Linked DNA regions of Homo sapiens: region 2 is linked to region 1. Evidence: fine-mapped expression QTL. A gene starts in region 1. The other region holds a variant in brackets. All regions are shown on one strand. Distances are between the middles of the regions.

Region 1 (5,385 bases):
CGTGCCCCGTCCCCCTCTCCCGCCACCCACCCCCATGGCTCAGTCCTTTGTATGCCCAGTAACAGCAGGCGAATTCCACAGGGAGTCGCGCGGTTGATTCCACGACTATTCATAAGGTTGTTCACTTAAGCTTCCAAACACCCCCCTCTAAGCACCCTTGGCTAGCGCCCTGAGAACTTCTTATCAATTTTAGGAAATCCACAAGCTATGATTCTCGGTGGAGATTCCTTTTTAAATAGACAGACAGATGAACTCTGGAGGTGTGCATAAGAAAACCAGAGCAGAACCTCAGGGATGGGAGGCATCTGGCGAGAAAGGAAGGAAGGATTTATGAGCAGGGCCACTTAGCAGGGCAGCAGGAAAATTTACTTCCGAAGAAGCTATCGCTAATTCACAAAGCCTTGCTAATCACTTACCTCTCCACCCAGACCGCACTCCTATGCTAGGCGCTCTCCTCCGCTTCCAACACCCCCATCCCCACCCCCAGCGCCTCTCTAAGATCAGAGGGAATGCTGTCCGGAAACCCTAGGGTGTCTGAACATCACCTGGGGAGTTGGGGCTATCGTAAAGCCTCCCTTTACTCTCCAAATTTGGAAGGAAGAGTAACCGAGAGTGAAGGGAGAATCCCTGAATTGCCTCTGAATGCTGCATAAGCTTCCTTCATTCTCTCCTCTTCCAGGAAAAGCTGAGCTGCCTCGCCTGAGCCGGCTATCACCACTGAAGTGGGCTAAGAGACCCAAGTAGGAGCTGGGCTTGGCCAGAAGTTTTGGGGCCCAGGTGACCTGAAAGAGACCCCGGAGGGGACAGCCTTGGCTCTTTCTTCTGCGCTCCCTTCCAGTCAGCTTTCCCGGCTTTGAAGGCTGGGAGCTGCTGCTAACACTTCAAACTAGGCGGACAAGAAGGGAGCCGGGCGATCAGCTCCGGAGCCTCCCCTCCTCCCTTACCCATCCCCAACTCCCGGCCACACTCTTCCCAACCCGGCTTCGCCCAGGGCCCCGGTCACTTATGTTAAAGTTCACAGGCGTTAAATTAAAATGTCAGAGTTATAAACTGGTCGACTACCCCGGGGAGTTTCGGATTTGGTTTGAACAAGCAGCCGGTTCCCCCAGAGCTCCGGGATTTTCATTTCTACATCCCCTGGTGGGAAGCAGGCATGAAGCGGGGTATGTATGAGTGCAGAGGCATGCACATCCCGGGCCTGCCTCCAGCCGGGTACGCGGATTCGGGTGAGCTGTGTATTTCCACAGCACCTGAAGCAGCAGGCGAGGGGGACGGGTGCTTTTGAGTCCTTGACAGTAATGGACACATTTCCTTAGCTGAGCGCCCTTCGGGGTCTAGTGTGCTCAGAGACTCAGTGAAGATCCTGCTACCCCAGTCTTGGCACAGCGCGGGGAGCCTCTGCGCATCATGCGCTTCGGGGTGCATCTACGGTATGTCACACAGCCACCCGCACCGAGAGTCTTTCCAAACCTCCGTGTGTGCAATATGCAACAACGTGCGCGTGCGGAGCTGAAAGGGCACAAGACACTCCAGGCTCCCACACGTATGGAGACGGATCGGCTGCGTGTCCACACCCCGTTCGTCCCTGGTCCATTCGTGCCCATCTCAGAAGATAGATTAAACATAATAATAATAATAATTATTATTATTATAATCAAAGCTTCTTGACTAGTTGGGAAAGTGGAATTTAGAGTGGTTTCCAGTTGAAAGCAACGAGGCAAATTGAGGAAGTCAAGAGAACTGGGGAGGAGGAGAGGAAGGAGGGAAGGAAGAAGCTAAGGGAGGTGGCCGCGGAGCTTGGCGGACCCCCTTACCTTGGGCGGCGGAGCCAGTGCCGCTGGCGCTGAGCAGGGCCAGGGCAGGTAGCACGAGCATTTGCAGCAAGTATCCCAGTCCCAGTCCGCAGCGGGCCGCTGTCGCCCGCAGACCTTTCCTCATCGTAGACAGAGGTGTGCCGGGGGGAGGGGAGGGGGACAGAGAGACGCGCAAACAGCTGAAAGCCCCACTGGGCAGAAGCTGAATCCGTGCACCGCGAAGCAGTCCGAAGAAATAACGACAACCAAGCGCCACACTCCACTTTCTCCAAAGGCAGGGGCCAAAAGGGGGAGGAGAGGAGACGCCGAGGAGGAGTTTGAAGGTCCCTCTTTCCCAATGCCTTCTAACTGACGTCTCCCGCGAGCGACTGCTCTGCCCCCACTTGGGAAGTCCAGGGAGGCGCAAGGCGGCCACCTCCGCCGCTCCCCCCAGCAGCAGGAGCAGCCGCAGCTCCGCCGCACGCCGAAGTCTGGACTGCTCTCCGGGTCCCCTCGCCTGTGAGGAACACACACAGACACCGGGGGTGGGGGTGGGGGTGGGGGTTGAAGTGGGGGGAGTTGGAGGAGGAGGGAACGGAGGGAGGAAGCTTGGGCACCGTCAGGCGCTCTGGTCTCCAATCTCAGTGTTCTCACGCCGGCGGAGAGATGTCCCGGCTGTCGCTGCTGGGTGGCCAAGGAGGTTCACATCCTAGAGTAGGGCGCACGGGTGCGCGAAGGCGCTCGCCAAGGAGGCGTAGAGGGCGCAGCACAACTCCTCTGGGGGGTAACCGGGGGCGGGAGCACGCCCGCCCGCCTTATGTAAGCAAGGATTGCAGGGAGATCAGCGCCCAGGAGACCAGCTGTGGGTTTGCCCGCTGAAGCCGAGGCGAGACAGACCAGGGGACGAAGCGGCTGCGGAGAGTGGCAGCGCGCCTGCCTCCCGCGGTGCGCCAGACCTGGACGCCGGGAGTGCAGCGGGCGCGCCCCGGGCCACTAGGCTGTGTCCAGTGGAGCTCAGCCTGCCGCCTGCCACCTTCTTCGCCGCGCCGGCAAAGCCTCAGCCGAATTCCCTAGGACTGGACTCGGTCTACGACTTCGGGTCTCGCGGTTGACGAAGCCGGTGCGGGCTCGAACTGAAGTCCTTCTTGGTTGGGGAAGAAGGCATGAAGCTTTTGCACTGCCCCAGCCGGCTGCTGTCCTGGGGTTGTCAGCGCCAGTCAGACTGCTTTATGTTCTGAGCGCGTATGACCCCTTTGCAGTGGAACAGAAACTAAAAGCTCGACGGAAACTCATTCTGCAACAGTGCTTTCTTTGCGTGCATGTTGGTGGCTGACAAGGGTGGTGATGCGATACCGAGAGAAACTCTCTTAGAAAAAAAAAATGCAAAGCAAAATTTGTAGATACTCAAAGTGATGGTGGAGCCTATAACATGTTTTTCAAATTTCTAATAGTGTGTGTAAGAACTCGAGCTGCTATGAATTTGTTTACCTTTCTACAGGAAATAATTGTCTACGTAGCTGGGTTGTGAATCCCTGTGGTCATGATGGAGGGATGCAAGATTGGGTGGGTAAAATAAGACTAGACAAAAGGAAAGTGAATTTATTAAAAGGTCAACACACAGACACAGACAACATTTTGGGAAAAAGAAAATCACTTCCCAAGATTAGCATGTCTTTAAACTAATAATACATCAGGGAATTTTATGCTCTTGGTGCCAAGGGGGCCATGTGTAAACACGCATGCACACACACACGCAGGAAACATGAGGTCTAATTTTGGCTGTGGTCATAACTACTCTGTTACCCTGGGTAAGTCAGGTAACCTGTGAATGTCTCAGTTTCTTCATTTGTGAAATATTTTGATAGTTTCAAAGTTCTCTTAAGTTCTAACATTCTATGATTCTGCCTGCACAGCCCCATCTAGGCAATAAGACCTATCTCGGATGAATCAGGGAGATCCGAAAAGGTAGTATTTGCCAAAGACATTGACAAAACTGGCCACTTCTTATTTCTGTGGAGACTCTGTCCACCACACAAAACCCTTCTTCACTCTCTTCATCTTCTCCATACCAAGACATCAAGATATTTGACAACAGGGTGGGTGCTGGCACCAGACTGTCTGCCTTCAGTTCTTAGCATTTCTTATTACTTGACTGATATTGAACATTAAAGCTAGGTGCCTCTCTTCCCTAATTTGTAAGATGGGTCTAGTAACAGGAACTATCTCATAGGGTTATTTGAGGATTATGTAAGTTAAACATATGTAAAATGCCTGACGCCAAAATTGTAAACTGCTGTTCTTACCATTGATGAAAAATTCCCATTAGCCTCATGCTATCTACACCAGTGCTGTTCAGCAGAAATTTCTGCAATGAAGAACATGTTCATATCTGTACTTTCTGAGGTCGTAGTTATGAGATACATGTGGCTACTTGCATGCAATGTGGCTAGTGTGAATTGGAAATTTTTATTTAATTTTAATTTAAATAGTCACATGTGGCCAGCAGCTACCATATTTTATGGTGTATCGAGGCCACTAATAACTTGTCAAGTATTTTGAGAATGACTTCACAAGGGATTATTATTATACTTTATATTTATATGTACAATTTTACTAAGAAGGACAACAGCTTAAGTACTAAGAAATCTCCACACATACTCACCATCACATCAACGACATCCAAAAGTTATTTATTTACAATTTTATTGCCTGTCTTCTTAAATTAGAATTTAACTCTTTTAAGACAGAGATTTTGCCTTTGTTCATTATTTCAACCACAGCTCCTAAACTGAGCCTGATATATAGTTGGTACTCAATCAATATTGACTGATTTCCTGCCAAAAAAGCTCAATGGGGAAGACTCCTCAAAGTCTAGGACAGCTAAAGAAGGTTGAAATTGTCGCCTACTCCTGTTTGGGGTATTGAGGTACTCAGTGACAGATACCACATGCAATTAGTTCCTTAAAATAAAGAATACGAGATTAAAAGAGGAAATGTAGTTAAATACTGAAATTCAGCCTAAAGATGGCAGGAGAATGGTTTGAGAAGTGGTATAGAGTAATGAGGTGGAAAAGGGGGAAGAGAGTGAGAGCACCACACAAAGGACAGGAAAAACACCAGCAATACATCAGCTTTACACAGCAGGCAAGTTTCCTGCTCTCTACAAGTACAGATGGAACTTGTCTTGTGAATTAACATCCTGACTACTTTTGTTGATCATCACATTTTTTCCTCATGAGAGAAATAATAGTGTTTTATAGGCTCCTGAGAATAGGTTTACTAAAGTCATCGAGATCTGGGTTCAAATGACACTGCTTAGGGAGGCATTCACTGATCAAGTTACCTAAAATAGCAACAATCTATCATCCAAAATATCATTTGCCAGCTTTGATTTTGCATATAACACTTACTTTATATATGTACATATATGTGTATATATATATTTGTGTGTGTGTGTGTGTATACATGTATATATATATGCAGTCTGCAATAAAATGTATGCTTCTCAGGGGAGAAATTTTTTTCTAATACATTCAGTGCTCTATACCCAGAACCTGGAACAATACCTTGTACATAATAGGTGATCAATAAA
Region 2 (5,385 bases), 260 kb before region 1:
GAGAGACCATGACTTGCCTCTCCCAGATTCCAGTGGCTGATGGCATTCCTTGGCTTGTGGCTACATCCCTCTAATCTCTACCTCTGTGGTTACACTGCATTCTCTTCTTCAATCTGTGTCAATCTCCCTTTGTCTTTCTCTTACAAGGCATTTGTGATGACCTTTAAAGCCCACCTGGGCAATGTCAGAAAATCTCTCCATCTCAAGATTCTTAACCAAATCTGCAAAGATCCTTTTTCCACATAAGGTTAATATTTACAAATTCCAGAGATTAGGACCTGATGCCTTTGGGGGTCATTATCTATCCTGCTGTGGTGGTTACAAGCATGGAGCCTGGATCTGCTCTGCCATAGTTTAATCCTAGTTCTGTACTTACTGAGGTTGCTATGTTTTCATTTCTTCATCCATAAAATGAAGATAATTCTATTACATATTGTATAGGATTACTGTGATGATTTTAAAAGGTAATATAAATAGCACACTTAGGACAGTGCAGTTACATAAAGAGTCCTCTGTCAATGTACTCATTTACATACCCACTTCCTCCAGCCCCTAAATCAGCATTGCTGTCAAGTGTTCACAGAGTTGATGGTTGTACTGATATTTATTTCTTTAAATTTTACTAAGAAGCCAAACTCCAAATATCAGAAATAAGCTTCTTGCTTCCCAAATTGAACTGGTCTTGACAAAAAGGCCCTCGATCTGTGGAAATTCTGTACTTAGAAGAGCTTCATGTTGTTATCTGCTGCTGGCCAGCTTACTCACTTTCTGACCTAGGCCTGACCCTGCATTAAGCAAATACAGCTGCTGTACTATGATTCACATTTTCATATTTTCAGGTGCTTTTCAGTTAATTCTTTTTACACACTCACTGAACAATGGTGTTGAACACATTCTAATATTTTTTTAAAAAAAGCTGTTTTAATATATTTTCAAAGTGCTCCTCTAGCAAATGATTTCATGGTCACTCAAAGTAATAATACTGTGTTCTTAAAGGGAAAAAAATGTATCTTTCTTCCAATAATGATGGAAAGTGCTAATTATGTTGTCATAGCAGACTAGAATTTATGCTTAAATCACCAAATCTGGCTGTTAACAGGAAATAACTGCTGTGAACCAAACAGTGAAGCATATTTTGGAAGAACTAGATTGGCCTTCAGAGCTTTGGGCATTTATTAAAAGTGAAAAATGCCTGACTTAATGCCATAGAGCCCTGAAATGTTAGCTATGGTTTTCTTTTCCAGGAATAGAGTATCTGATTTTTGCTGGAATTTTTAAAAATAAAGAAAAATATTATTATGCTAAGCAACTCTTATTGTGGTTTGTAAATATAAAGGTTATAGAATATTTTAAAAATTGAAGCTCGGTGCAGTGGCTCATACCTATAATCCCAGAACTTTGAGAGGCCAAGATTGGGGATCGCTTGAGGCCAGGGAGTTTGGAATCAACCTGAGCAACAAAGTGAGAACCCCCATCTCTACAAAAAATAGAAAAACTAGCAGAGTATGGTAGTAGGTATCTGTAGTCCCAGATACTAGGGAGGCTGAGGTGGGAGGATCGCTTGAGCCCAAGAAAGTTAAGGGTGCAGTGAACTATGCTCATGCCACTGCAGTCCAGTTTGGATGACAAGCAAGACCCTGTCTCTGAAAAAACAAATTAAAGAAATAAAAAGTTTGGTGGTGTTTTTTTTTTTTTAACTTATCTTTCCTTCTCAAATATTGTAAACAATAAAACAAACAAAAATCAACTATATGCAGTTCCCTCTATAGTTTGAAAAGTCAAGAATGGTTGTATGTTTTTTGCAACTGTGTGCAATGAACTGGACTGCAAAGAGAAAAGTTTGTTTAAAATTCAGATTCAGTGTTTCCTAAACAGGTGACATGGGCAAGTTAGCTAATATTTCCATGATTCTGTTTTGTTATTTACAAAATGAAGATAACAGAACTTACTTCATAGGATGTCGTATGAAGATTATGATAGTTAACATGAACAAGGGTCTTATAACAGAGTTAGGCATACAGTAAGCATATAATAAATGTTGGCTACTAGGACAGAGACTAAAGAAGAAAGAATAAGGACAATCGACTTTGATTTTTTTCCTGTTGTTTTATAACCGCATTTTGCTTTTGTAAGGGGTAAAGTTTTCGTTCTCTCTTAGGAATTTACCACAAACACTTTCATAATATCATAACTCATAACCAGGAAGAGCGGTTAGAATGATCTGCAGCAAGTCAGCAGAAAGGTAAGCTTGGTAATTTCTTCAGTCGTGCCAAGCCCTGGCTATCACTTACTGCACTGAGATCATTTAAATGAGAGAAATT[C/G]CAGGGAACAAAGACTCTTTAGAAGGGAGGACAATTTCAGCCATTCTTCGTTATTTCTTGACTTTTGGGCATTTATAGGACAAACACATTTGTATTCAGATAGTCTTGTTAAAGAGTTTTTTAAAAAAATAAATATTTCAGCTAGCACTCCAAATGACATCCACTACAGAAAAGAGGAAGAAAAAAAATCCATACAAGCCACTCTTTTATATTCAAAATGCATCTTTAGTTTCAGAAAAAAAATGATTATATGTCATCACAGTATTTTTTAAGGTATGTCTTAGGGATAAATAATAAGAAATATGCCAACTTTATGGATGAGGAAACTGACATACCAAAAAGCTAAGGCTCTTTTCTCAGAGTACAAAAAAAAGAATGCAATGATTGCAGACAAGCTGTTTTCTTGCAAATAAGCATTTTAGCCATAAACTTCACTTTTCATACAGCATAAAACATACTTTAATAACACATTTTTGTCCAGTGTGTTACCAGCCCTGCCTATAACATACGTATAGATGATTTCCCCCAAAATATGACTTATGAGACTGTGTTCTATGAATTCGTTGTCTACCTCTCAGAATAAATATGAGCTATAAATGCCTAAGAATTTGTGGGGCATCCATGAAACTTGGGAACTTCTGACCATCTACAAAAGCAAATATGTTTGAAAAAATATAGACTGACACAATCAGGTATACATTATAATATTTAATCTTGAAATAGGAATAACCTGATAATACAACTGTCAAGATTTATATAAAACAAGAGTATTAATTAATTTATTGTTTAAATATTTTTCCCTTATCTAAAAATGTCTAAAGTATATATTTAATCTTATCCAATTCAAAATATGGCCTCTGTTACTTATAATTGGATTAATGTGGGCTTTAATGGTTGTTATACAAGGTATCATACTACAACTCAGAAATGTACCTTAGTAAAAATGCCATTTATTCTGGTGTACAGGGGAGCCTGCTGAATCCTGCCAGTACATTTGGTGTTAGGCTACTAGAACTGTTTATAGTATGACCTTCATCTTTCAGGATGCTTGTTTAAAGAAATGCATTATTTTTGTTAAATTGTATAATTAATTTTGTTTTATGCCAAGTAGAGTAGACAGGTAGAAAATAAAAAAGTAACACATAAGGCCACAAATCAGGACTTCTGTACATGTGAACCAATATAATAATTCATGAGATTACATATATATATACACATATATATACATATATATACACACACACACACACACACATATATATATATATATATATATATATATATAAATTTTTTTTGTTTTTTTTTGAGATGGAGTCTTGCTCTGTCACCCAGGCTGGAGTGCAGTAGTGCGATCTCAGCTCACCGCAAGCTCTGCCTCCCAGGTTCACGCCATTCTCCTGCTTCAGCCTCCCGGAGATTACATATATATTTAACTGGAGATACTTAAATACAGAAATGTCAATTCATTCATTCCTTTATGATATTTCTTGAGTCCCTACATTGTGACAGGAATCACCCTAGGCGTTTTGAATTAATCAGTGAAAAAACCAAACCCAAATCTTTGCCTATGTGGACCTTACTTTCTAAGGGGGTGAGGGGGTACAGAATACAAACCATTAACTAATAAATAAGTAAATGTATGATGGTTTAGAAGGTGAGAAGTGCTATGCAGAAACGTAATAAGTACAAGAGTGTAGAGGCAATTACGTCCAGCTACCTGATGTTCTTGAATTCCTTGGGGAAAAAAAGTATTTTTATTAAATGAACAAATGATTCACATTGAATAGTATCTTCACTTTTCCCCATCATGTACTTTCAATTTAATTCAATTTTATTTCATTTTTTTATGTTTTAATTTATTTATCAGCAGCCACAGGCAAGGGACGTCTTCTAGGCACTGGAGACAACAAGGAAGAAAAGAAAGTCTCTGTCCTTGTGAAGCTTACATTCTGGTATGGCAGATGGTTAACTCAAAAGAAAACAAATAATGATGAAGAAAAATGTTATGGAGAACAATAAAGCAGGATTAGGATTAGGCAAGTGACAGGGTTGAGGCCCGGATAGACAGACCCCTCTATAGGAGTGACATCTCAGTATAAATCTGAATGAAAGAAGAAAGTAAGCCAGTTTTAGACTTGGGGTAAGAATGTTTCAAGTGAGAAGAAACAGTTCTTGCAAGCAGCCTATATGTGGAATGAATCTATTGCATTCTGGAAACAAGGAAATGGATGTGGTTAGAGCAGACAAAGCAATAAGAAGAGAGGCAGGAAGCCAAGGTCTGTTTATGTTTCTGTATTATAAATAATAGTGAGCTTTTTTTTTTTTTTTTTTTTTTTTTTTGAGACAGGATCTCACTGTCACCCAGGCTGGAGTACAGTGGTGTGATCATGGCTCACTGCAGCCTTGACCTCCTGAGCTCAAGGGATCCTCCTGCCTCAGCCTTCTGGGCTGACAGTAGTATCCCAGCTGGGATCACAGGTGCACACCACCACACTTGGTTAATTTTTTTTGGCTTTTATTAGAGACAAGGTCTTGCTATGTTGCCCAGGCTGGTCTCAAACCCCTATGTGCAAGTGATCCTCCCACCTTGGCCTCCCAAGGTGCTGGGATTACAACGTAAGACATTGCACCAGTTATAAACATTATGCATGTAGAGAATAAGATGTTTTTGTGAATTGCCAGCTGATCTACAAATCCTTGTCTCCTCCTCCCTTCTTTGTACCCAGTGTACTGGTTAAACACATGGACTTGGATGCTGGCCTGACTCACTGCTCCATATACCACCTGTATAACCTCAGGCGATTTTTAATCTCCCGTTGCTCTCAATTTCCTTGTCTATAAAATGGGAATAATAATAACACTCATCACATAGAGTCCTTGCAAAGACTGAATGATCTAATACATAATACATGATTGAAACAGCACTTCCATTATTATCAGTATTATTATTCTGGAGCCTATCTGTCCAATGCAAACCACATGAGGCTTTCAAGCACTTGACCTGTAGCTGGTCATAACTGAAGCTATTGTAAGGGTACACACACTAGCTCTGAAAAACCAGTAT

Direction of the effects. Alleles are on the strand shown, and positions count from the first base shown. SD is a standard deviation of normalised expression in the study named.
In carriers of allele G in region 2, the expression in tibial nerve of the gene that starts at base 2,054 in region 1 tends to be lower than with C alone (small effect, 0.37 SD a copy in GTEx).

Evidence for each region. PIP is the estimated chance that this variant, and not a neighbour inherited with it, causes the effect.
Region 2: its variant is the best candidate, but not a certain one, in a credible set for the expression of UNC5C in tibial nerve (GTEx, PIP 0.86).

Annotation. Positions count from the first base shown.
Region 1 is chr4:95,546,920-95,552,304 of GRCh38, forward strand. It overlaps UNC5C (unc-5 netrin receptor C), which reads right to left and starts at 2,054. Exons shown (of 16, transcript NM_003728.4): 1 at 1,815-2,054. The coding sequence starts at 1,938. It overlaps UNC5C-AS1 (UNC5C antisense RNA 1), which reads left to right and starts at 2,229. Exons shown (of 5, transcript NR_183914.1): 1 at 2,229-2,312. RefSeq lists an enhancer at 2,496-2,625.
Region 2 is chr4:95,288,662-95,294,046 of GRCh38, forward strand. All of the region lies in intron 3 of UNC5C (unc-5 netrin receptor C), which reads right to left. Among named protein-coding and RNA genes, the nearest start is that of UNC5C, 260 kb to the right of the region's middle. The variant C/G (reference allele first, on the strand shown) is at 2,322.